Regions from separate parts of the Homo sapiens genome. Here all the other regions are linked to region 2. Evidence: fine-mapped expression QTL. A gene starts in region 2. Each other region holds a variant in brackets. All regions are shown on one strand. Distances are from middle to middle. Region 1 overlaps GTPBP4 (GTP binding protein 4). Region 2 holds the start of IDI1 (isopentenyl-diphosphate delta isomerase 1). Region 3 holds the start of IDI2 (isopentenyl-diphosphate delta isomerase 2).

Region 1 (8,181 bases), 35 kb after region 2:
ATTTCAAAAACCAGACCTGGTATTTTTTTTTTTTTTTTCACACGGAGTCTCTCTCTGTCACCCAGGCTGGAGTGCAGTGGCACGATCTCGGCTCACTGCAACCTCCGCCTCTGGGCTCAAGCAATTCTCCTGCCTTAGCCTCCCGAGCAGCTAGGATTACAGATGCCCACCACCACGCATGGCTAATTTTTGTATTTTTAGTAGAGATGGGGTTTCACCATGTTGGCCAGGCTGGTCTCGAACTCCTGACCTCCTGATCTGCCCACCTCGGCCTCCCAAAGTGCTGGAACTACAGGCTTGAGCCCCTGCGCCCAGCCCAGCCCTGGTAAATTTTTAAAATTGCCACATGTAATCCAGAAGTGTGATTAACTAAAGTCCTTTCCTCAGCTATAATGTTGATTGTGTGACTTGATAACTTATCCGTGGTGGCTCTTGGACCCCTGTGTGTCTTTGGAGCTCCAGGAGCACACGGACCCCTGGGCAGGTCCCTCCGACCCCACAGCTCTTCACCCCAACGCTCCCCAGCAGGTGCTTTTGAGGTGGCATTGGCGGTGTTTTTGTGTTTTACTGAACATGTAACTTCAGGGACGGGCCACAGAAATAGGAGAATGCCCATATTTAATTGCCTAATGCCTCCAGCAACATTTTACTCCCCCAAAAGTATTTTTGCTTTAAAACAAAATAGAAATGTCATGTTGTTTGCCTTTTTATTTGGCCAAATCCATAGCGACTATAACTAAACCAAAACATGAGCTAAGTAAATGAAAACTACTTTCTTCTGGAGGTTTATTTTGGATAAAATAGTTGAAGACAGACTACAATGAGACATTGTAAAATAAGACTAGAAAATAATTTAAGAGCGTATTTTAAGCACGGGATTCCGACACACTCATAAACGTGTTTGCTCCCAGCTCTTACAAAAGAAAATAAGGTTTTTCTCCATCAAAAACAACCTAGTTAAACCAGTAAATCTTCCCAGTTCTGAAAATCTGAAGCAACTGATACTCCATTAAATGTGGAAACACTGTCTACTCAAAATATTTGTAATATTATGCAGTGACAAAAATTTCCCACACCTATATAGGGTTAACCATAGTTTTCAGCAAAGCAACAAGTGCTTTACTTATTTTGTCTTTTTCAGTTTATACAGAGCTCCAATTTCATGAAACCATACTGTGCCAAACCAGGAAATAAACAGCAACACTCTAGCGAAGCCACGCCAACCAAACGGATACTATCTCCTGTCCTTTTTACCAGCTTTCCTCTTCCCAGACAGCAAGTGCTTGGGCTTCATATCAAACACGTGTCTATCCGCCTCCCCTTTCTTCCCCAACCGATTCATCTTCTTCTGAGCATTCTTCATCATAGTCTTGGCTTTCTTCACCATCTAAAAGGAGGAGAAAAAAATAAAGTATGTTCATTACTTAAAACCAATTTTCCATTCTGAATTTCAACTACTGGGTAACAATCTGTTTAATGGCTCAGGTCTGCTCAGCGAAGAGACCCTGTTACATCTCTTTTCTCTTAAGCCCAGCACAGTTATCCCTGTTACATCTCTTTTCTCTTAAGCCCAGCACAGTTACCCCTGTTACATCTCTTTTCTCTTAAGCCCAGCACAGTTACCCCTGTTACATCTCTTTTCTCTTAAGCCCAGCACAGTTATCCCTGTTACATCTCTTTTCTCTTAAGCCCAGCACAGTTATCTGCAGGAACTCAATGAGTATTTTTGTATAAAGACTGGATGAAAATCATACCCAGGACAAGCTTTATACCCAGGACTAGATACACTTTAGACCTAGAAGGTTAGCACACATCTGTTTTAACTCCCTCTTACACAAGCTAAGGACTCAGGCCCATGAACCTGTTTTCCTCAGGTCTGACTGACAAGTGGCAATGCCAATATTAACAGCCAGGTTTCAAGATGGCAATGGCACAGAGGAGTGAAGCTCAGGCTTCCATGAAGGAGACTGCAGTTTATACACAGACTCTCCTGCATCTCCATTACCACAACGCTGAAACTAAAAGTTGTTGTGTTTAATAAAAGGACGTTTCAGCAAGACAGACTGTGTCCATCTTAAGTGTCTTTGCCAAAAGACGCTACAAATAAACTAAATGTGACTCAAGCTCTCCACCTGGGGGGAACAATCCTGCAACCTAAGGATGAGCAGGATCACCCGCCAATCAACCCAGGAGTTCCCTCTGCTGTTCCTCCCATGGGGGGCTTGCTGGACTTGAGGCCTCCTGGTGCTCAGCTGTGGCCACTTCCTGGCCCTCTTCAGACAGCAGGGTCTAAGCCCAGACTGCTAGTGCTGTCAGACCATGCTCTGGCCACCCTCCGCAAAAGCAAAGTGCCAAGGAGGGGTCCATCCAGGGCAGCTGTCAGGGGCATCCACCTGCACCCTGACCCGTGCTCTCCTCTAAAGGATGCCACAAAACGAGGGCATGCAGTACACACAACCCCTGCCATAGTTCCTGCAAATGGCAACTGCTGGTGTTTGCCCTGAACCCTGTGCAATAAACAACAGAGACTGTCATTTTATTACATTACACAACACAGAGACTGACCTTGACATCCCTAAGACCAGAAACGTCACGTGGAGTTCGAGAGCAACTCCCACTCCGGGCCACAGAGGACGGGGGAGCAGAGTCTTCCCGCTTTCTTTTCCTAGTGATGCTCCGGGATCTTCTTGCCTGGACTGCGTAATGGGCCTGCAAAGCAGGGGAAGCAATGCTCAGCGCTCAGGACCCCAGGTCCACTCCCAGGCTCAGTGCTCAGCGCTCAGGACCCCAGGTCCACTCCCAGGCTCAGTGCTCAGCGCTCAGGACCCCAGGTCCACTCCCAGGCTCAGCGCTCAGGACCCCAGCCCCGCTCCCAGGCTCAGCGCTCAGGACCCCAGCCCCGCTCCCAGGCTCAGCGCTCAGGACCCCAGCCCCGCTCCCAGGCTCAGAGCTCAGGACCCCAGCCCCACTCCCAGGCTCAGCGCTCAGGACCCCAGCCCCACTCCCAGGCTCAGCGCTCAGGACCCCAGGTCCACTCCCAGGCTCAGCGCTCAGGACCCCAGGTCCACTCCCAGGCTCAGAGCTCAGGACCCCAGCCCCGCACCCAGGCTCAGCGACAGGCATGAGGTCACTCCAGCAAGAGGGGAGGAGAGGAGCGTCTGAACCATTAACACATGGGCTAAAGGTCTTGAAAATACACGCAGTATTTTCATATTAGTGACACCATTTCAAGTTCACATTAGTAACAATTTCACATTAGTT[G/A]TTGGTCAAATATTCTTATTCACTTAACGGAAGCTGCTTTACGTAAGAAAGCTGATTTTAACTCCACTTAAAGAAACTTAGAACTCTCATTTAAAAGTGATTATTATAGTATAGCATCACAATTTATATTTCAGATATAAACAATGCTCTCTCCCTCACTGCCCCATTTTGGGGGTTACTGATATGAACACAAAGGGACAACCATCAGACAGAAACCATCAGACGGAAACTGCAGACTGCACATCTAGAGGACAGGGTCTGCAGCCACACCCTGGGCACGTCATGGTGCTGTCTCGTGCTGGCTGTGGAGCTTTTTTTTTTTTGAGACACAGTCTTGCTCTGTTGCCCAGGCTGGAGTGCAGCCTCAATCCACCACTTCAACCCAGACCCAGGGTCAGGGAATCCTCAACCCATCACTTCAAGTCAGTCCCAGGGCCAGCGAATCTCAAAAGAGAAAAACTGGAAGCTCTCATTTCTTTTTGCTGTAATTTCCCACGTTCCCACGGCTTTCCAAAACCCTGGTTTCTTTCTTTCTTTTTTTTGAGATGGAGTCTCACTCTGTCGCCCAGGCTGGAGTACAGGGGCACGATCTCAGCTCACTGCAATCTCTGCCTCCCAAGTTCAAGCAATTCTCCTGCCTCAGCATCCTGAGTAACTGGGATTACAGGCACACGCCACCACGCCCGGCTAATTTTTTGTATTTTTTTTAGTACAGACTGGGTTTCACCATGTTGGCCAGGCTGGTCTCGAACCCCTGACATCATGATCTGCCCGCCTTGGCCTCCCAAAGTGCTGGGATTACAGGCATGAGCCACCACGCCCGGCCAGTTTTCTTTATTAAAAAGGTGTATCCAGCCACATAAACACATGAACCGCCCCCACACTCACATCGTCTTTATCGTCCATGTCAACACCAAGACTACGCATCTCCTTCTCCAAAACTGTCCTCTGAACCTGAGAAGGATAAAAAGAAATATTAGCTTTAAATTAGTTTGATGAAATGTTGAAAAAAACTTCAAGGCAATATATATGTATACATATTTTGCAACAATTATAATATACTTATTTTAGAAGTTGTAATTTTTATTGGGCCCCGCTTTCATGTTTTTGGATAGCTCAATTAAATCCCACGAAAACTAACATTAACAGAGCAGTTGCTGTGGGAAGAATCAGCGTATCCTCCACGTCTGTCCATTCTTCACCGCAACACGGGGGAGAGAGTGACCGTCTCCATCAGAGGTGAGACACTAAAGCTGAGGTTAGTGAGGTGGCCTCAGACAAAGGCAGTGCGCCAACCTCTCTCCTCCCAGAGATGGCTGAGCCCCACCTGGAGAAGTACAAAAATGTCCAAGTCCGCCATAACCAGTCACTTGCCACCATGTGAAAACAGTGTATTCAAACAGGAAGACCCACTGAGAGGCATCCTGAATGTCAAGTGACTTCTCTGGTTACATGTTAACTGCCCTGCATGTGGGCTTTCTTCCCCCAGTCCCACCCTGCCACAGAGCCAATAAATTGCCTTTTGTAGACTGCGTCAGGTTTCTGTAAATTGCTAAAGAGTCCAGATTTTTTTTTAAATTTTTTATTTTTTGAGATGGAGTCTTGCTCTGTTGCCCAGGCTGGAGTGCACTGGCACAATCTCGGCTCACTGCAAGCTCTGCCTCCCGGGTTCACACCATTTTCCTGCCCCAGCCTCCCGAGTAGCTGGGACTACAGGCGCCCGCCACCACGCCCAGCTAATTTTTCTGCATTTTTAGTAGAGACGGGGTTTCACTGTTTTAGCCAGGATGGTCTCAATCTCCTGACCTCGTGATCCACCCACCTCAGCCTCCCAAAGTGCTGAGATTACAGGCGTGAGCCACTGCGCCCGGCCTAAAGAGTCCAGATTTAATGCAGAAATTAAAGAACAAGAAAACCAGCCGGGCGTGGTGGCTCACGCCTGTAATCTCAGCACTTTGGGAGGCCAAGGCAGGCAGATCACTTGAGGTAAGGAGTTTGAGACCAGCCTGGCCAACATGGTGAAACCCCATCTCCACTAAAAATACAAAAGTTAGCCAGGCGTAGTGGCAGGTGCCTGTAATCCCAGCTACTCGGGAGGCTGAGGCAGGAGAATTGCTTGAACCCGCGAGGTGGAGGCTGCAGTGAGCCAAGATGGCGCCATTGCACTCCAGCCTGGGAGACACAGCAAGACTCCATCTCCCCCCTAAAAAAAAGAGAGAGAGAAAAAAGAAGAGGAAAATGTTCACTGATAGCCTTGAACGTCTGTGAACCATAAGTTACAGTTTTAATCTGTACAACTGCAAAATGACTGGATCTAGAGTAGTGCCAAACTCGAAGCTGAAAGTCACCAAGAAAGGACGCAGTAAAGAATATAAAAGATCAATACGTGAGCGATCTTGCAAATCCATACACCAATAAAACAAGAATGTGCAATCTTATGGCCATAAATGGGTTGAAAAGTTGTTATTTAGCAATGATCACACAGGAATCCAATTTTCAAAAACTAGATCACACTGCTTTGGAAAGACACAAACTTGCCTTCTTAGCAGTTCGCGGCATCCTGGGTCCCTGTGTATTCTTTTCTTTGGACTCCAGAATTTTCAACTTCTTTTTCTCTCGAATTTGCTTTGCCAGCTGTCGGATTTCCAGCATCTCTTCGTCTTCACTCTCAGATACACTGTCATACTCTCCAGCAGCTGTTCTCAGCTCTTCTTCTTTTTCTAATTCTTCCAATTTCTTTAAAAATGGAGTTGTAATGAAGCAAAATTAACAATGAGAAAACCCCTGAGTCAGTGAGTGTGGCAGAGTGTGTATGGGAGCTTTGTTTCCCTGACTCAGAGGAGAGCGATTGCCCTGGTCCAGACCCACCTGGGCCCTGCCTATGTGCCATTTACCTCACAGGGAGGGTTCTGTGAAGAAAATGGAGACCACGTGAACGCCAGCCGCCAGCAAGTCAGTAACCCCTGTGCACCATTTCCTTTTTTTAAAACAATTAAATTCCAAGGCTAAAAATGTGCAGAGACCGCCTCCTTCACTTCCAATGCTCCCGGCAGACACACACAAGGAACTCAGTCCTGAGACACTGATTTCGTGCCACATCCCACGTGTCCGTTCTAATGTCACCCCAAATACAACCTCACTGGCTACAAATAAGACAAAAATGAAAACTAAAACACACACGTTTATCACCCCCCAATGAGGCAACCCGGCCAGGAGCCCAGCAGGCAGATGTGCCTGTACGAGATGCTGGCCAGCAGTGCAGAGGGTGAGACGGGGGCCAGGCCTCGTGGAAGGGGATGGCACGGGCACAGCTGTGCGGAGGAGGGAAGTCTCAAGGCTTCTTGCGCCCAAGAGCGCGCACTGCAGAGGGGAAGAGGCTGGGAAGGCAGGCGGCCACCGCGGGGACAGTGAGGGCACGGGCTGGACTGGGGCCCCAGCAGAGGTGACAGCAGATGCCCTGAGGCCACTCCTCCAGCACCAACGAAATTGAGATTGTTGCCCCCAGAATCTGCTATCCCAGAATCTGCTATGGAGGCACAGGGAGCACAGAGACCACGAGACTGAAAATGTGAACTCAATGACGGAGGGCCTGTGGGAACCAAGGAGTGGCAACATGGGACATGCAGATGGCAAGTATTGTATAAAAAGAATGTTCCAGAGAGCTCAGCTGAGAGAAGAAGGCAGGACAGCAAGTATTGTATAAAAAGCATGTTCCAGAGAGCTCAGCTGAGAGCAGAAGGCAGGACAGCAAGTATTGTATAAGCATGTTAGCATGTTTCAGACAGCTCAGCTGAGAGAAGAAGGCAGGATAGCAACTAATGGAGGACACGGTCTAAGGATGTTTTCGTTTTTTAAAAAGATGAGTAAAACTTGTGGACTTTTATATGCTAAGAAAAAGCAAGTAGGGAGGGGATTGAGGCAGGAAAAAGATGTGACACAGCGGAGCCCCCAAGGAAGAGGGTCCAGCACAGCAGAGTCCATTAAGGGCCTGGCGGAGATACAGGGTGGGGAAGGTGGTGCAGGGGGCACAGTCAGGATGGAGGGATGCAGGAGAATGAAGGGGCCCAGCATCTCCACCAGAGTCTCGGGGTGGGGGGAAGAGGTGCAGGAGGCACAGTCAGGATGGAGGGATGCAGGAGAATGAAGGGCCCAGCACAGCAGAGCCCATCCAGGGCCTGGCGGAGACACAGGGTGGGGGGGAAGGTGGTGCAGGAGGCACAGTCAGGATGGAGGGGTGCAGGAGAATGAAGAGGCCCAGCATCTCCACCAGAGTCTCGGGGTGGGGAAGGTGGTGTAGGGGGCAGAGTCAGGATGGAGGGATGCAGGAGAATGAAGGGGCCCAGCATCTCCACCAGTGTCGGGACAGGGAAGAGGTGCAGGAGGCAGAGTCAGGATGGAGGGGTGCAGGATAACGAAGGGGCCCAGCATCTCCACCAGAGTGTCCGGGGTGGGTGGGTGGAGGCGGCGGGAAGGGGGCAGGCCAGCATAGCAGAGCCCAGCCAGGGCCAGTATCTCCACCAGAGTCTCAGGGTGGGGAAGTGGTACAGGGGGCAGAGTCAGGATGGAGGGGTGCAGAATGAAGCGGACAGGCCCAGCTGAGCCGAAGCCATGCTGCTATCTTCCAGCAATACTACTATAATAAAAAGGAAAACAATCCGCAATTTAAAAAGTGACACAAACCTTCATGATGGCTGGATCAATATAATCAGCTATATTATGGCCTTCCCAGATTTCTGGTATCTTATCATGTTTTTCAGACAAATTCATTAAATCCCAGTACTCTAAAGTTAAAAAAAAGGTGGTTACGTTTACAGCAGTTTTTAATATCTTCAAGTACTACGTGCGCAAAATGAGTTGTGACTGACGGCAAATCAACGACTCCACTGCAGAAGAGAGCACGACGTGCAATTCCACATGCAG
Region 2 (8,181 bases):
CAAATGGTAAGAAAATAAAACAGCTTTATTGCTGATATGGAGAAACTCTGAGTGGTCTGTATAGATTAAACCAGCCACAATATTCTGATAAAGCCTAATCCAGAGTAAGGCCCTAACTCTCTTCAGTTTTCTGAAGGCTGAGAGAGGTAAGGAAGCTACAGAAGAAAAATCTGAAGCTATCAGAGGTTGGTTCATGAGGTTGAAGGAAAGAAGCTGTCTCTATAATACAAAAGTGCAAGATAGGCCAGGCATGGTGGCTTATGCCTGTAATTCCAGCACTTTGGGAGGCCAATGCAAGTGGATCCCTTGAGGTGAGGAGTTCAAGACCAGCCTGGCCAACATGGTGAAACCCTGCCTCCACTAAAAATACAAAAATTAACTGGGTGTGGTGGCACACGCCTGTAGTCCCAGCTACTCAGGAGGCTAAGGCAGGAGGATCACTTGAACCCAGGAGTTGGAGGTTGCTGTAAGCCAAGATCACACCACCACACTCCTGGGTAACAGAGTGAGACTCCATCTCAAAAAAAAAAATGTGCAAGTGCAAGATAAAGCAGCAAGTCATCTAGGAGATCTACCTAAGATCACTGATGAAGACGGCTTTGCTAAACAATAGGTTTTCATTGGAGTTGAAACAACCTTATTTTGGGAAAAGATGCCGCCCAGGACTGTCATAACTAGAGAGGAGAAGTCAAAGCCTGGCTTCAGAGCTCCAAAGGACAGGCTGACCCTTGCTAGGGGGCTAGTGCAGCTGATGACTTTATGTTGAAGCCAGTGCTCATTTATCATTCTGAAAATCCTAGAGTCCTTAAGCGTTATGCTAATTCTAGTCTGCCTCTGCTGTGTAGATAGAACAACAAAGCCTAGATGACAGCACATCTACTTACACAGTGTGGTTTACTAAATATTGTCAGCCCACTGTTGTTGAGACCTACTGCTCAGGAAAAAAAAAAGATTTCGTTTCAAAATATTACTGCTGATTTACAGTGCTCCTGTTCACCCAAGAGCTCTGATGGAGATATACAAGGAGATTCATGTTGATTTCATGCCTGCTAACACAACATCCCTTTTGCAGCCCATAGCTCAAGAAGTCATTTTGACTTTCAAGTCTCATTATTTAAGAAATACATTTTGTAAGGCTATGGCTGCCCGAAGATGTAACTGAATCACTGCACTAGCATAATAAAACATGAATGGATAAGCAGTTGCTTCTTGTGGATGAACAAAGAAAGTGGTCTCTTGAGATGGAACCTAATCCTGGTGAAGATGTGAACACTGTTGAAATGATAACAAAGGATTCAGAATACTCCATAGACTTAGTTTATGAAGTAGCAGCAGGGTTTGAGAGGATTGACTCTAACTTTGGAAGTTTTCCTGGCCGGGTGCGGTGGCTCATGCCTATAATCCCAGCATTTTGAGAGGCCAAGGTGGGCAGATCACAAGGTCAGGAGTTCAAGACCAGCCTGGCCAACATGGTGAAACCCAAGCTCTACTAATAATACAAAAATTAGCCGGGCATGGTGGCACACGCCCATAGTGCCAGCTACTCATGAGGCTGAGGTAGGAGAATTGCTTGAACCCAGGAGGTGGAGGTTACAGTGAGCCAAGATCGCACCACTGCACTTCAGCCTGGGCGAAAGAACGAGACTCTGTCTCAAAAAAAAGTTTTCCTGTGGTTTAAAAAAAATCTTTCATGAAAAGAATTGTCAATCAACGTGACAAATTTCATTATTGTCTTATTTTAAGAAACTGCAACAGCCACCCCAACTTTCAAGCACCACCTTGATCAACAGCCATCAACATTGAGGCAAAACCCTCCACCAGCAAAAAGATTATGACTCATTGAAGGCTCAGCTGATGGTTAGCAGTAAAAAATATTAACTTTAATCATCTCGACCATTCAGTACTCATCTAATATTCTCTATAACAAAATGGGAAATGCACATAAAGCACTTCTGCTACATGCTGAATTATGATTGTTGTCTCCAGGAAAAGAACTTGTGGGAACGTTTGAGTTGTAAGCTGAACTAACTAGCTGCTTTTTTCATGAAATACCGCTTTTACTGGAAAGAACTGACAGATAAACTGAGGTATTCAAACCTAGATATTTGGCAGACATTTTCGTGAAAATAAATATGTTCGTGCCACTTCAAGGAACATAATTCTCAGTACTTGTTGCCAATAATGTTGGAATTTTCATGCAAAAATTCAAATAAAAAACAAACTTAAAACCATCAAGAACTTGGTGACTTTATGTGGAAGCCAGTGCTACAATACTTTAGCTTCCCAATACTTAAAAACTTTTCTGATGAGATTACTAGTGATATTAACAATGTGATTGATATTGAATAATGAAATGTTTTAGCATTTGGAAGATCTGTTTAATTCAGTAAATCAGTATTTTCCAAATGACCAATGCATGACATTTCAACATCACGCACAGGAAAATAGGCATTCGAGGTACAGTCAAAAATAATGAGTTTTAATGTAACAAGTACAAAATGTCCATTGAAGTGGTTTCAAATTCCAAATAGTAATTGGAAAATCCACCACTCGTGTTTTGGGGTAGTAGTATCGAAAAAGAATAACCAAGATAATTTGAAAAGGCTATTAAAAAATACTTCTCAATTTTCAAACTGCATACAGCAGGTGCTCATTCATTTCTTTGTAACATTGATGAGAAAAAGACTCCCAGCCAGGGGCACTGTCTTTGTGGTGTTTACGTGTTCTCGCCACACCTGCATAGGTTTTCTCTGGGTGCTGCAGTTCTTGCCACATCCCAGAGGTGTGCACGTGAGGTGAACTGGTGTGTCTTCACTGTCCCAGTCTGAGTGTGGGTGTGTGAGTGGCCCTGTGATGGAATGGCGTCCTGTCCAGGGCTGGTTCCCTCTTTGTGCCCTGAGCTACTGAAACAGGCTTCAGCTACACATGACCCAGAACTGGAATAATTAAGTAATAATTATCTTTTTATTCATCTTTCTTAAATGTATGTATAGCTCACATTTATTTCAATGTTTAATATTAGAATACTTTGGCCTTTAGAAGCTTAGTGATTTTTTTTTTCCTTGGCCAGAAGTATGCTTTAGGAACTTAATCCTTATTTTTTAGCCTCTGGTAAAATTGGTTTTGCTATACGTTGTTTCACTTAAAAGTCCTGATTCCCAAGAACGCACTGACAGCAGTGAGGACTTGCTGCGCATGCGGGAGGCCAGATTTTCTTATCTGTGTGAAGCCAGACATGAAAGAGATCTGTCAACACATAAAACAAAATCAAAGTCTGTTTTTTGTCTGGAAAAGATTTTTAATAAAAATATAACTTATGTTAGTGTCGTGTGTTTTTTAAGTGAATATTTTAATATGTTTAATTTCTATGTTAGTAAATAGCAGTAGTAAACAACAGTGAGCAAAAGCTTTTAGGTGTCCTCAGTACATTTTAAGAGAGTGCAAGCGTCCTGTGACCAAGAAGTTTGAGAACTGGTGCCCACCAGGTTCATCTCACAAGTTCAGTATTTTAAATTCCACACAAAAGGTAGAGGAAATAGCTGAATTCGCTTCAGCTGCGCATACATTTCACGATTATTTAAAAGTTTAGAGGGCTAGGCGCGGTGGCTCACACCCGGAATCTCAGCACTTCGGTAAGCTGAGCCAGGTGGATCACTTGAGGTCAGGAGTTCCAGACCAGCCTGACCAACATGCGGAAACCCGTCTCTACTAAAAATACGAAATAAGCCGGGCGTGGTGGCGCATGCCTGTAATTCCAGCTACTTGGGAGGCTGAGACGGGACAATTGCCTGAACCCGGGCGGCGGAGGTTGCTGTGAGCGGAGACTGCACCATTGCACTCAAGCCTGGGCAACAAGAATGAAACTGTCTCAAAAAAAAAAAATTTAGAACGTAGTCATGTACCTCGAAAGCGAACACTCCCAACATAGCGTGGAACACCCCACACCCCCGGCGACTTTGCTCCGCCTTGGTCCCGGTCGCAGACACCGCAGAAAGGCCATCGTTCTAGACATACGAGAACTCCCCGTGCAGCCAAACGCTGTAGTCCCAGCGGCGGAACTCGGGGGGGGGGAGGGGGGGGAGTGCCCAACCAGCCAGTCAGCAGTGACGTCCCGCCTTTCCTCCGTTTCCATTGGTCCAGCCATGCGGAGGTCGCTCCCATGGGACGCCGAGCTTCCGGCTGCAGGGCTTGGCGCCCGGGCGCTTTCGGATTGGGAGGGCTTCCTCCATGGAACGCGAGCCTCGAGACGTCTGACGTTAGGCACCGTTCGCAGCGCCTCGGGCTCGCACGGCAGGATCGAAAGCGTGATTGGCTGGCGGCGTCTGTGGTCTCGGGCACCGCCCAGTCGCGGGACGCTGCCTCTGCGGAACTGGGGGTGGGGCGTGTTGACCCCCTTAAAGGCGCCAGAGCCCGCGGTCACGGCTCAGGTTCCCGGTGCTTCGCGCGTCTGCCGTTGTCACAGGCCAGGGAGGTGGCACCACCAGGCGAAGCTTGGCGAGATTGTGTCGTCAAGCGCGTACGGGCGCCAATTGGCCGGGCGATGTGGCGTGGACTGGCGCTGGCGCGAGCGATTGGCTGCGCGGCCCGGGGGCGGGGCCAGTGGGCGGTGCGCGCCGCAGACTGTGCTCAAAGCGGGCGCCATCCGGGACCGGCGGTTGTCTGTGGCCGGAGGCTGATCAGGTACTGTGGACGGGCGGCGGAGTTCGGGAGACAGGGGCAGGGCGGCATCGGGGAGCTGCGGGACGGGGCGGGGAGGAGGCCCGAGGTCTGAGCCACCCGTGAGGTCTCGGCGCGGAGGCCTGGACAGCTGGGGGTGGCGGCGTTGGTCTCCCGAACTGGAGGGAGGCCGGGCCTTCCCGGGCTGTGGTGGGCGCCCGCGCCCCGTGGAAGGCGGAGGCGTGAGTCGGGGCGTCAGAGACGTTGCCATTCTTTGTCAGCGGAAAAGATCGTCGTCTGCGCACAGTCACCTGAGGTTTAGGAACTCGTGGAACTGGAAACCGAGTCGCAGGAGACTAAGAGTTGCGAGTCTCCCCTTAGAGAATTCAGAAACAAGCGTAGACAGCATCGTCAGAAACACGAGCGTGACGACACCGGCCTCCCCGTGCCGAGTCCACGCGTGTGACGCGGGTGCATACACCTGCGTCCGTGCAAGAGGGTGACAGCAACACACTCAAGGCGCTTCTCCTGGGAATGGAGCAGGAGAAGAGATGGGGAGCATCGCATAGATGGAACTAGACCTTTTTCTTGGGTTGGATGATGTGTTCCCGCGTCTACTACATGGTATTCTTTAAACGCATAAATAGACGTATTCATTTTATCTTGTGATTATGCAGCTTAGCTTTAAAATCTGAATTCTGAAAATCCTGAAAGAGCAATTGTCATTACAGCTGGGCGGTGGTGCACGCCTTTAATCCCAGCACTTTGGGAGGCGGAGTCGAAGGCTGCAGTGAGCCGAGATCGCGCCACTGCACTCCAGCTTGGGCGACAGACATAGCAAGACCCAGCCCCATCCCCCCGGAAAAAAAGTCATGTCAAAAAGTCTAGTAATTATGTAGTAACGAAACCTATCTTAGTGATCACCTAATATACAGTTGGCCTACTGTATCCTTGGGGTCCATATCCATGGATTTAACCAACTGCACATTATAAAATATTTGGAAAAAAATTTCATCTGTACTGAACATATACAGACTTATTCTGTAAACAATACAGCACAACTATTTATGTAGGATTTACATGTTTTAGATACTATAAGAGATCATCTACAGATGATAATTTAACGTTCGGCCCGCATCACTTAACAGGGATACTTTGGAGAAGTTCATTGTTAGGTACTTTCATCATTGTGGAAGCAGAGTGCGCTGACGCAGACCTAGACAGTGGAGCAGCTGGGCTGTGTGGTGTAGACAGACGGTGGAGCAGCTGGGCTGTGTGGTGTAGACAGTGGAGCAGCTGGGCTGTGTGGTGTAGACAAAGGACCAGACAGTGGAGCAGCTGGGCTGTGTGGTGTAGACAGTGGAGCAGCTGGGCTGTGTGGTGTAGACAGTAGACAGTGGAGCAGCTGGGCTGTGTGGTGTAGACAGTGGAGCAGCTGGGCTGTGTGGTGTAGACAGTGGAGCAGCTGGGCTGTGTGGTGTAGACAGTGGAGCAGCTGGGCTGTGTGGTGTAGACAGTGGAGCAGCTGGGCTGTGTGGTGTAGACAGTGGAGCAGCTGGGCTGTGTGGTGTAGACAGTGGAGCAGCTGGGCTGTGTGGTGTAGACAGTGGAGCAGCTGGGCTGTGTGGTGTAGACAGTGGAGCAGCTGGGCTGTGTGGTGTAGACAGTGGAGCAGCTGGGCTGTGTGGTGTAGACAGTGGAGCAGCTGGGCTGTGTGGTGTAGACAGTGGAGCAGCTGGGCTGTGTGGTGTAGACAGTGGAGCAGCTGGGCTGTGTGGTGTAGACAGTGGAGCAGCTGGGCTGTGTGGTGTAGACAGTGGAGCAGCTGGGCTGTGTGGTGTAGACAGTGGAGCAGCTGGGCTGTGTGGTGTAGACAGTGGAGCAGCTGGGCTGTGTGGTGTAGACAGTGGAGCAGCTGGGCTGTGTGGTGTAGACAGTGGAGCAGCTGGGCTGTGTGGTGTAGACAGTGGAGCAGCTGGGCTGTGTGGTGTAGACAGTGGAGCAGCTGGGCTGTGTGGTGTAGACAGACAGTGGAGCAGCTGGGCTGTGTGGTGTAGACAGTGGAGCAGCTGGGCTGTGTGGTGTAGACAGTGGAGCAGCTGGGCTGTGTGGTGTAGACAGTGGAGCAGCTGGGCTGTGTGGTGTAGACAGTGGAGCAGCTGGGCTGTGTGGTGTAGACAGTGGAGCAGCTGGGCTGTGTGGTGTAGACAGTGGAGCAGCTGGGCTGTGTGGTGTAGACAGTGGAGCAGCTGGGCTGTGTGGTGTAGACAGTGGAGCAGCTGGGCTGTGTGGTGTAGACAGTGGAGCAGCTGGGCTGTGTGGTGTAGACAGTGGAGCAGCTGGGCGGTGTGGTGTAGACAGTGGAGCAGCTGGGCTGTGTGGTGTAGACAGACAGTGGAGCAGCTGGGCTGTGTGGTGTAGCCAGTTGCTCTTAGGCTGTTTTTCCTGTTGCTTCAGGCCTAAATTTGGACAGTGTGTGACTGTGCTGAATAATGTGGGCAGTTGTAACACAACAGCAAGTATTTGTGTATCTAAACATAGAAAAGGTGATGTGTTGTGCTCCGATGTTACAATGGCTACAACATCATTAGCAATAGGAATATGTCAGTTCTGTTATAATTTTATGGAACCACTGTAGTATATGCAGTCTGTAGTGTACCGAAACACCATCATGTGACACATGTATGTACACAGTGGATATACACAGGTGATCTGCAAATATTATGCCATTTTATATCTGAAACTTCAGCATCCTCAAATTTTGGTAGCTGTGGGAGGTCCTGGAACTAACTCCCATATATACCAAAGGATGACTGTATATAAAACTAGCCTATAGAAGTTGGAAATCTTTCTAAAATTGAGGCTAACTCTGAAGTTGACTTCCTTTTCACATTATTTTCCCTCTTGATTTGTTTTAATCATTAACCTTATTTCAGATTTTTTGTATTAGATATCAATATCTCCATCATCACTGACTCCTGACACACGCATTCACACACACACACACACACACACACACACCCAGACCCTATGTGGGTCTAGAACTTTGTATTAAGTAGCTGTTTAAACACTTTGTGTACATTCTGCAGTATGCTTGAACTCTGTTGAAAGTATTTCAGTGGTCCCCGTGTGGTGGCTCACTCCTGTAATCTCAACACTTTGGGAGGCCAAAGCAGGCAGATCTCCTGAGGTTAGGAGTTCGAGATCAGCATGGCCAGCATGGCAAGACTTCGTCTCTACTAAAAATACAAAAATTAGCCTGGCGTGGTGGTGCACGCCTGTAGTCCCAGCTACTTGGGAGGTCAAAGCAGGAGAATCACTTGAACCCAGGAGGTGGGGGTTGTAGTGAGCTGAGATTGCACCATTGCATTCCAGCCTGGGCAACAAAACGAGACTCCCTCTCAGAAACAAAAAAGTATTTCAGTAAAATCTATGTATTTGAAATAGAGTCACATAGAAAGTAGAGCACATGGGATCTTCAAAATATATTGGGTAGAAAAATCAGAAAACAAAAATTATTATTCA
Region 3 (8,181 bases), 25 kb after region 2:
TCTTCTGCATGCAGCAGTTTTCTCAGAGATCTGAGAAGTTTACCCCAGTGTCGACGATAATGTGTCAGTATTTCTGGAACATGGCAAGCCCTTTCCATCTGTGGGTTTAAGTCATCTTGTGTGTCTGGGATATTTTTCTTTATTATTATGGCTCTCTTGTTCAAGGATACCCCTTTTAGCACATGCTGTATTTGTTTTACCCTCTCTTTCATACCTACAATACTTGGCCTACTCCTTTTTAACTCTTTCCACTTCCATTTCTTTTTACCTGCTTTTCCCAGTCTTGGCCTCCATGTCCTTCTCTATATTTCACTGATATCTAGAGCCCTTTCTGTTGCTTCTAATTTGCCTTAATCAGATGTAATCATCTATTCCTAGAGTTTATTCTTAACCTCCTACCTGCAGCATTATAGGTCATCAACTGTCATTCTTAAAGTTGTCATAACCTCTCTTAAGAAAATTCTCCGCATATAGCCTAATCAAAATGTCTTCCTTCCTTTCCTTTATAATGTTTTTTGTGTGCTTTATGTGTCAGAACCTTGTACCCAGATCAACCTAGCAAAGGGTTTCCCTCCTTTTTTATCCCCTAGAACATTTTACAGAGAATGACAATTCCTTCCTTGAAATTTTGATAACATTTGCCTCTAAAGCTTTCAGTGCTTAGTTTGGTGGTGACGATCCCAACATGTTAAACTGCACAGATTCTGGGGGCTCAGCTGCATCTGCAGCCACATTGCCTTGGGCAGGTAATTTACCTCTCTGTGCTTCAGTTCCTTATCGATGCTGTGATAATAAAAAATAACGCTTATCTCAGAAAGCTGTCGTGAGGACCAAATGAATTAATATACATTAAACTCTTAAAATAGAAACTGGCACAAAGGAAGGACACAATGTGTGTCTGGCTGTCTTACTATTATTATTATTACTATTAGAGTTGTTGGATTATAATAGGTACGGTATTGTATATTAGTTTCTTCCTCAAAGCCTAATTCATAGACTTATTTATTATTTTTTAGATCTTTAAAAGAGTATCATTCTCCCATTCTTACTCTTCTGACTGCAAAAGAAACAAGTTTCAAACAGACCATTTATTCCTGAGTCTCAGAACTGATTTCCAGGGAAAACATTTCAGGCATAGCCTTTTGATTTTCTACGTAACTAAAAATTACATGCATAAAGGTGAACTTATGGAAAGACAAAAGAGCAAAACACATTAATCTTTTTATAGAATATTACCCATCACTGCTGCTGTGTTATTTTTGTTCTGTATTATCCGTGCCAAAGTCAGCGGAGTCATGCGTCCATCGTGCTTCTCTCCTCATATTCCCTGAGAGAACCGACAGATATGGCAAACATTTTTTTGATATTTTAAGAGACCCTACTTGCAAAACTATTTGGCCTAGAGCTTTAGTTGGTAGATGATATTTGGAATATGATAGGCAAGAAATTATACAGTTTTTTAGCTCTTCCAAACACATTGGTTTCCAAGGTCTTGCATTTATTTATCGATTTTCAGCTATCCTAAGAATTTATTCAGTAATTTTAGTCACAATGTTTATTATTTTTCTCTTCCATTTGCCACCTTTATTTTTTCTTTTTAAAATCTGGGATGATATATACAGCAAGTGAATTAAAAAGATGCCATCGAACGGCGCCGTGGCTCACACCTGTAATCCCAGCACTTTGGGAGGCCGAGGCGGGCGGATCACCTGAGGTCAGGAGATGGAGACCAGCCTGGCCAACATGGTGAAACCTCGTCTCTACTAAAAATACAAAAAAATTAGCTGGGCGTGATGGCGGGCGCCTGTAATCTCAGCTACTCGGGATGCTGAGGCAGGAGAATCGCCCGAACCCGGGAGGCAGAGGTTGCAGTCAGCCGAGATCACGCCACTGCACTCTGGCCTGGGCAACAGAGCTAGACATCACCTTAAAAAAAAAAAAAAAAAGAAAGCCATAGAGTAGAAAATAACTTACCCTAGGTTTAAAAACTAAAAGCATTTTTTAAAGTGAGATTGTGTCAAAACAATTTTCTATTATCCCTCAATTGAGAGGGAGAAAGATAGAGAGAAAGAGATGGAGAGATAGAGAGAGACCGGGGTGTGTTTTCTTGTTAAGAATACAAAAATATCAGATTGCCTTAGCTGATATCTTTCTACATCCCCAGGGTATAAAAGGGCCCTGGTTCAACTTGCACATTGAGTTCCACATCTGATACCCAGGAGTCTCCAGCTTCCAAGAGAGGTTAGTGCATATGTTTTACCTTGTGGGAATTCTTTCTTTTATGATCTAAATTTGTACATATTCAGTAATTGTTTTCTCTGCATTTCTATTGTATCTCATGTCCATGCATTAAGTCAAACAGCCTTTTGCAAAGAGGAGGAGCAGATTGCTGAAAATATTAACAGTAATGATAATGGACAGACGTGAATGCATTTTTTTAAAAAGTAGAAAAGGATGATGAGAAGGTTTTACATGAAGATAAATGACCCTGAAAACATTTTTTTTTTTTTTTTTTGAGACAGAGTCTCACTCTGTCTGCCCAGGCTGGAGAGCAATGGCACGATCTCGGCTCACTGCAACCTCTGCTTCCCAGGTTCAAGTGATTCTCCTGCCTCAGCCTCCTGAGTAGCTGGGAATACAGGCATGTGCCACCAGGCCTGGCTAATTTTTGTATTTTTTAGTAGAGAGAGGGTTCCACCATGTTGGCCAGGCTGGTCTCAAACTCTTGACCTCAAGTGATCCTCCCACCTCGGCCTCCCAAAGTACTGGGATTACAGACGTGAGCCACCGCTCCTGGCCCTGAAAACATTTTGTGAGAAGATCTTCACCTAAGAATCTGCTTGGCTCTGAAGAGGACCATAGCCCTTCTGTGGGTGACGTAGCTTTCCTACAAGGCTGTGTGTTTCTCCACGTCTGATCCAGGTCCAGTGGTTTTGCACAGGGCTGCACTTTTCCCCAAAAACTTGTACAAAGAGTGTTACCTACAGTTTACCTCGGTGTGTTTTGTGTGTGTGTGTGTGTGTGTGTGTGTGTGTGTGTGTGTGTGGTGGGGCGGGGATTCTTTAACTCGTCACTAAAGGAAACCTGGAAAACATGAGGAGTATGTATGTACCCAAGATTTCCCGTTCAGAGAGACACCACATTAGAAACAGATGATTCACCTTCCATATCTCAGAACTGTGCTGCTTCAACACAATTGCTGTCACTTGTAGAGAAGGTGTATGCTAAATCCTAATGTGGTTGGTAACACATAGCAAAAACGAGATGGCAATATCTTTCACATAAA[G/C]AGGCATTTGTGTGCATCTATTTCAGGTCGGGTCACAGCCAGCAGCTATGTCTGACATAAATCTTGACTGGGTTGACAGGCGTCAGTTGCAGCGCTTGGAGGAAATGCTGATTGTTGTGGATGAGAATGATAAGGTTATTGGTGCCGACACCAAGAGGAATTGCCATCTGAACGAAAACATTGAGAAAGGTAGCCCCCGCCCATTTTCTCTGTCCAGTTCCCAGGGTTTTCCCATTTTTCCCACCCGACGGCAACCTAAGAAGAGAGTCTAGGCCTTTCCGGCTAGGAGGCGACCACTGGGTCACCTGTGTGCTTGCTGTGCCGTCTTTAGAAGGCTCGGGGAGCAGCACCTGGATGACGTCTTTGCTTGGTCAAGCCCTTGTCAGGCTCCTGCACCTTCTCCTAGGCATCCGTGCTCTTCCTCGTAAGATCCTGTTTCAGCAAGAATTCTACCAGGTTGTTTTAGCGAGAACCCTGACCTTGGCATCTGATTAAATTCCTCAACCCCGTCCCTCCCAGGTGACGTCTGATCACGCAGGCCTGTCTTCAGCAGGTCTTGTTAGGTCGGTGTAGCCAGAACCCCCTTCCCACTGATGTTTTCTCTTAGTAACTTTTAATCCATAGGCCCCAGCCTGCTCCTTGGGTGTTGTGTGCAGTTAGGCTGGTTCTCCATGGAGGTCTCTTTCCCCTATTGAAATGGTTCTCAGTAAAGTCAGACTTTCCTGCTTTAACTCCTGTCCAGCTCTGGTTTTCTTTGACCATCTTAAGCCATTTTATTATTTTTTAATTTTCATTTTTGTGTCTTTTTTATAAACACATAATAATTATGCATATTAATGGGGTACATGTGATAGTTTGATACCACCATGTCATGCATAATGATCAAATAGGGCATTTTGGGATATCCATCACCTCAAACATTCATCATATCTTTGTGTTGGGAACATTCCAAATCCTCTGTTCTAGCCACATTGAAACATATAATACACTGTTGTTAACTACAGTCACCCTACTGTGCTATTGAACAGCTGATATTATTCCTTCTCTATCGCGGTATGTTTATACTTATTAACCACCCTCTCGTCATCCCTCCCCACTGCCCTTCGCAGCCTCTGGTGTCTAGCATTGTGTTTTCTGCCTCCATGAGATCAACTTCTTTAGAGCCCACATAGCAGTGAGAACATGTGATACTTGTTTTTCTGTGCCAGGTTTGTTCCACTTAACACAATGGCCTCCAGTTCCATCCATGTTGCTACAAATGACAGGATTTCATTCTTCTTTTTTTTTTTTTTTTTGAGACAGAGTCTTGCTCCATTGCCCAGGCTGGAGTGCAGTGGTGCAATCTCAGGTCACTGCCAGCTCTGCCTCCTGGGTTCATGCCATTCTCCTGCCTCAGCCTCCCGAGTAGCTTGGACTACAGGCACCTGCCACCACGCCCAGCTAATTTTTTTGTATTTTTAGTAGAGACGGGGTTTCACCATGTTAGCCAGGGTGGTCTCGATCTTCTGACCTCGTGATCCGCCCACTTCAGCCTCCCAAAGTGCTGAGATTACAGGCGTGAGCCACCGCACCCGGCCCGATTTCATTCTTCTTTTGTGGTGGAATGGTATGCCACTGTGTATCTAACCCTCATGTTTTCAACCCTTCAAACCTCCACGGACACAGGTTGATCTCATATCTTGGCTGTCGTAAATGGTGCTCAGCACCCAGGAATGCTGCGATATCTCTCTGATAGACTGATCTCTTTTATTTTGGATATTTGCCCTGGTAGTGGGATTTCTGGGTCATCTGGTAGATCTATTTTTAGTTTCCCGAGTGTTCTAATCCGCTGAGATTCTGAAACGTTGTGTTTGGGCATCCAGCAGTCCCCTTTGCCCTGCCCAGGTGCCACAATCACAGGCTTTTCTACGAGAAACAGACTGAGGACAAAAAGCACGAAGGACAATCGTACAGACTCCAGGCATGCACTCACACAAATGGCACTTACCTTTGCAGGGCTGCTGCACCGAGCCTTCAGCGTTGTCTTGTTTAACACCAAGAATCGAATCCTGATACAGCAGAGGTCGGACACGAAAGTCACGTTTCCTGGTGAGTCCGTTCAACCAAGCCCCGGACTGAAGAGAGCATCTCATGTGACTTGACCGGAGGAATCTGGGACAGGAACTCTCTGGTGCTCAGTGCCGCACTGTGGTGAGCTGGCAGCTCATCCTGCAGAAAATCGGCAGCTTAGGCAGATGCTAATTATGCTGATAGCTCTTCAGTAGGCTGGGTTTTCTTTTTTAAAAAAGTAAGAAACTATATGAGTTTCTGGGTTTTTTTGTTTTGTTGTTTCTTTGCAACGGCAAGTTACTTAAATGCAGAGGAATTTATCAACCTAAGGATTTAGGGGATTAAAATAGCATTTAGCATAAAATTAACTAGGTAATAATAATAAAAATTATCTTACAGGTCTTAGAGTTTTAATTATCTTGTACTTCTTAAAATTACAACTTAAAATTTTTTTTTTTTTTTGGAGATGGAGTCTGGCTCAGTCACCCAGGCTGGAGTGCAGTGGCGCCATCTCGGCTCACTGCAAGCCCCGCCTCCTGGGTTCACGCCATTGTCCTGCCTCAGCCTCCCAAGTAGCTGGGACTACAGGCGCCCGCCACCACACCCGGGTAACGTTTTGTATTTTTAGTAGAGACGGGGTTTCACCGTGTTAGCCAGGATGGTCTCGATCTCCTGACCTCGTGATATGCCTGTCTTGGCCTTCCAAAGTGCTGGGATTATAGGCGTGAGCCACCGGGCCCGGCCAAAAAATTTTTTAGAGGGGAACAGCATTTACGTCAATTGTGGTCATTTAAAGTGTTTTGGCCTAGGCTGTCCTCAAATTTTCAAAACCAGACCTTGCCTGAGCCATTAAAGCGAATGGCTAAGCACGGCCAGCTGTGGCCGAGGTTTTCTCCTCCCTTAGTTCTTCCTCGGAGCCGCAGTGGGTACATCCTGCCCATTCCCAAACCCACCACCATACTTGCTGGTCAAGTTGTACTCACGGGCTCCTTGATGGAGCTGAATGCAAAGTTTGTTTCAGAAAAATTCAGGAGCTGCAAAGTTAAGAGGGTCAACTGTAGTACATAGTCAACAGTTTGCAAATAAAGCCCCTGGAGCTAAGATTTCCTATCATGTGTTAGCCGCCTCCAGGATACATAGGGGCAGGTGGGAGTACCAGCTCTTGTACTTGCAAGAGTGGATTCAACTTCAGCCAAACTCCTTGCAGAGTGACCGAAGGAAGCACTGAGGGTCTGAGGAACGAGAGGGAACAGAGATTTACTGAGGAGAGTGTGACCTCCCGTCATAGCGCTATTGCTGTTACTTGGGTAAATTAAGTAGAACCTCTCAGTAAGGAAACTTGGTCAAAGGTATTCCAGCAGTCTTCCTGTGAAACCATGCTCACTGATCACCACCCTCAAAGTGCAGCCCAGCTTCCTCAGCCCAGCTGGTGCAGCCACCCAGCCCACAGCCCCACCACCTCCTCCCGCCACCCCATGGCATCTCAGGTCCTCTGTGGGTACAAAACTGAGTAGGAACCAGTCCCTCTCCTAAGACATACTGGGATAGTGCCACGGGACATGTGTGTGCACATCTGCAGGAAGGGCCGCAGGAGCGGTCAGGGCCAGCCCCGCCAGGTGGTCATGTGGAAGACCCTCACCAAGCCCACAGCCGTGGAGGCTGGAGGCGAGTGCTGCTCTGAGAGCCCATGACAAACCCACTCCCCCCGCCAGGCTGTCTTCTGCTGATGACGGATGATGGTTTTACATGAAGCATCTGCATTTGTATTTAATATATTCACTTTTCAGGAATAAAGAGGGATGTTCCCACATGCATTTTTTCCAGGGTATTTTACCGACTCCTGTAGTAGCCACCCATTATACAACCCAGCAGAACTGGAAGAAAAGGATGCCATCGGAGTGAGGAGGGCAGCCCAGAGGCGTCTGCAAGCAGAGCTGGGAATTCCTGGGGAGCAGGTACACACAGCATCCAGTCTCAGCTGTGTCCACGGGAGTCCAGGTTGGCAGCGGGCAGACGGTGAACAAAGTCCAGGCTGGATCTACACCATTGACCTCATGAAGCACCATGAGGATGAAGGATGGGGCTGTGGATGGGGCTGTGAATGAGCTGTGAATGGGGCTGTGAATGGGGCTGTGAATGTAGCTGTGGATGGGGCAGTGTGAGTCCCTATGTGTCCCAGGCAGGGTTGAGACTGTGCAGGAATCTGTCGACCACACACCGAAGAGGAAATTCAAGCCGGGCGTGGTGGCTCACGCCTGTAATCCCATCACTTTGGGAGGCCGAGGCGGGCGGATCACAAGGTCAAGAAATCAAGACCATCCTGGCCAACATGGTGAAACCCCGTCTCTATTAAAAGTACAAAAATTAGCTGGGCGTAGTGGCACACGCCTGTAATCCCAGCTACTTGGGAGTCAGAGGTTGCAGTGAGCCGGGATTGTGCCACTGCACTCCAGCCTGGCGACAGAGCGAGACTCCATCTCAAAAAAAAAAAAAAGAAAGAAATTCAAGTGTAGAAAGAATGTCCAGGATCCTGTGAGCATGTGTTACCTTCATCCACTCAAGAACACGTTTAAGAGAGGATGGATGTTCTCCTGACAACGCTAGCCGGTTTCTACGGGGTTTTCTGTTGAGGATGTGTGTGTGACACGGTTAGTTCTTTAAATGAAGACAGACAGGTTTACTGGAACCAAGAAACCAAAGCCGGTTTATCATTCAGACTTGAGTCCACAAAAATTTACTTAGCTAAAATCGAGGTTTTGGAAATTATCAATTACCAAAGAAAGTGTTCATTTTCTGAGGAAAACAAATGTGTTTATTTTCTCTATTTTTCTGTAAATTCTGTGTTT

What was found. PIP is the estimated chance that this variant, and not a neighbour inherited with it, causes the effect. A credible set is the group of variants that fine-mapping cannot tell apart.
Region 1: its variant is the best candidate, but not a certain one, in a credible set for the expression of IDI1 in whole blood (TOPMed, PIP 0.60).
Region 3: its variant is the best candidate, but not a certain one, in a credible set for the expression of IDI1 in whole blood (INTERVAL, PIP 0.78).

Annotation. Positions count from the first base shown.
Region 1 is chr10:1,010,281-1,018,461 of GRCh38, reverse strand. It overlaps GTPBP4 (GTP binding protein 4), which reads right to left. Exons shown (of 17, transcript NM_012341.3): 13 at 7,942-8,042; 14 at 5,800-5,997; 15 at 4,150-4,215; 16 at 2,566-2,709; 17 at 1-1,387. The coding sequence ends at 1,235. Among named protein-coding and RNA genes, the nearest start is that of IDI2-AS1, 8.3 kb to the left of the region's middle. The variant G/A (reference allele first, on the strand shown) is at 3,262.
Region 2 is chr10:1,045,363-1,053,543 of GRCh38, reverse strand. IDI1 (isopentenyl-diphosphate delta isomerase 1) reads left to right here and starts at 4,425. Exons shown (of 5, transcript NM_004508.4): 1 at 4,425-4,680. The coding sequence starts at 4,541. RefSeq lists enhancers at 3,777-3,916, 3,588-4,117, 4,377-4,426, 4,118-4,647, 4,648-5,178 and silencers at 4,517-4,736, 4,747-4,836.
Region 3 is chr10:1,019,876-1,028,056 of GRCh38, reverse strand. It overlaps IDI2 (isopentenyl-diphosphate delta isomerase 2), which reads left to right and starts at 2,198. Exons shown (of 5, transcript NM_033261.3): 1 at 2,198-2,241; 2 at 3,313-3,475; 3 at 5,282-5,374; 4 at 7,160-7,290. The coding sequence starts at 3,334. IDI2-AS1 (IDI2 antisense RNA 1) reads right to left here and starts at 5,420. Exons shown (of 5, transcript NR_027709.1): 1 at 5,274-5,420. GTPBP4 (GTP binding protein 4) reads right to left here. Exons shown (of 17, transcript NM_012341.3): 17 at 8,125-8,181. The variant G/C (reference allele first, on the strand shown) is at 3,287.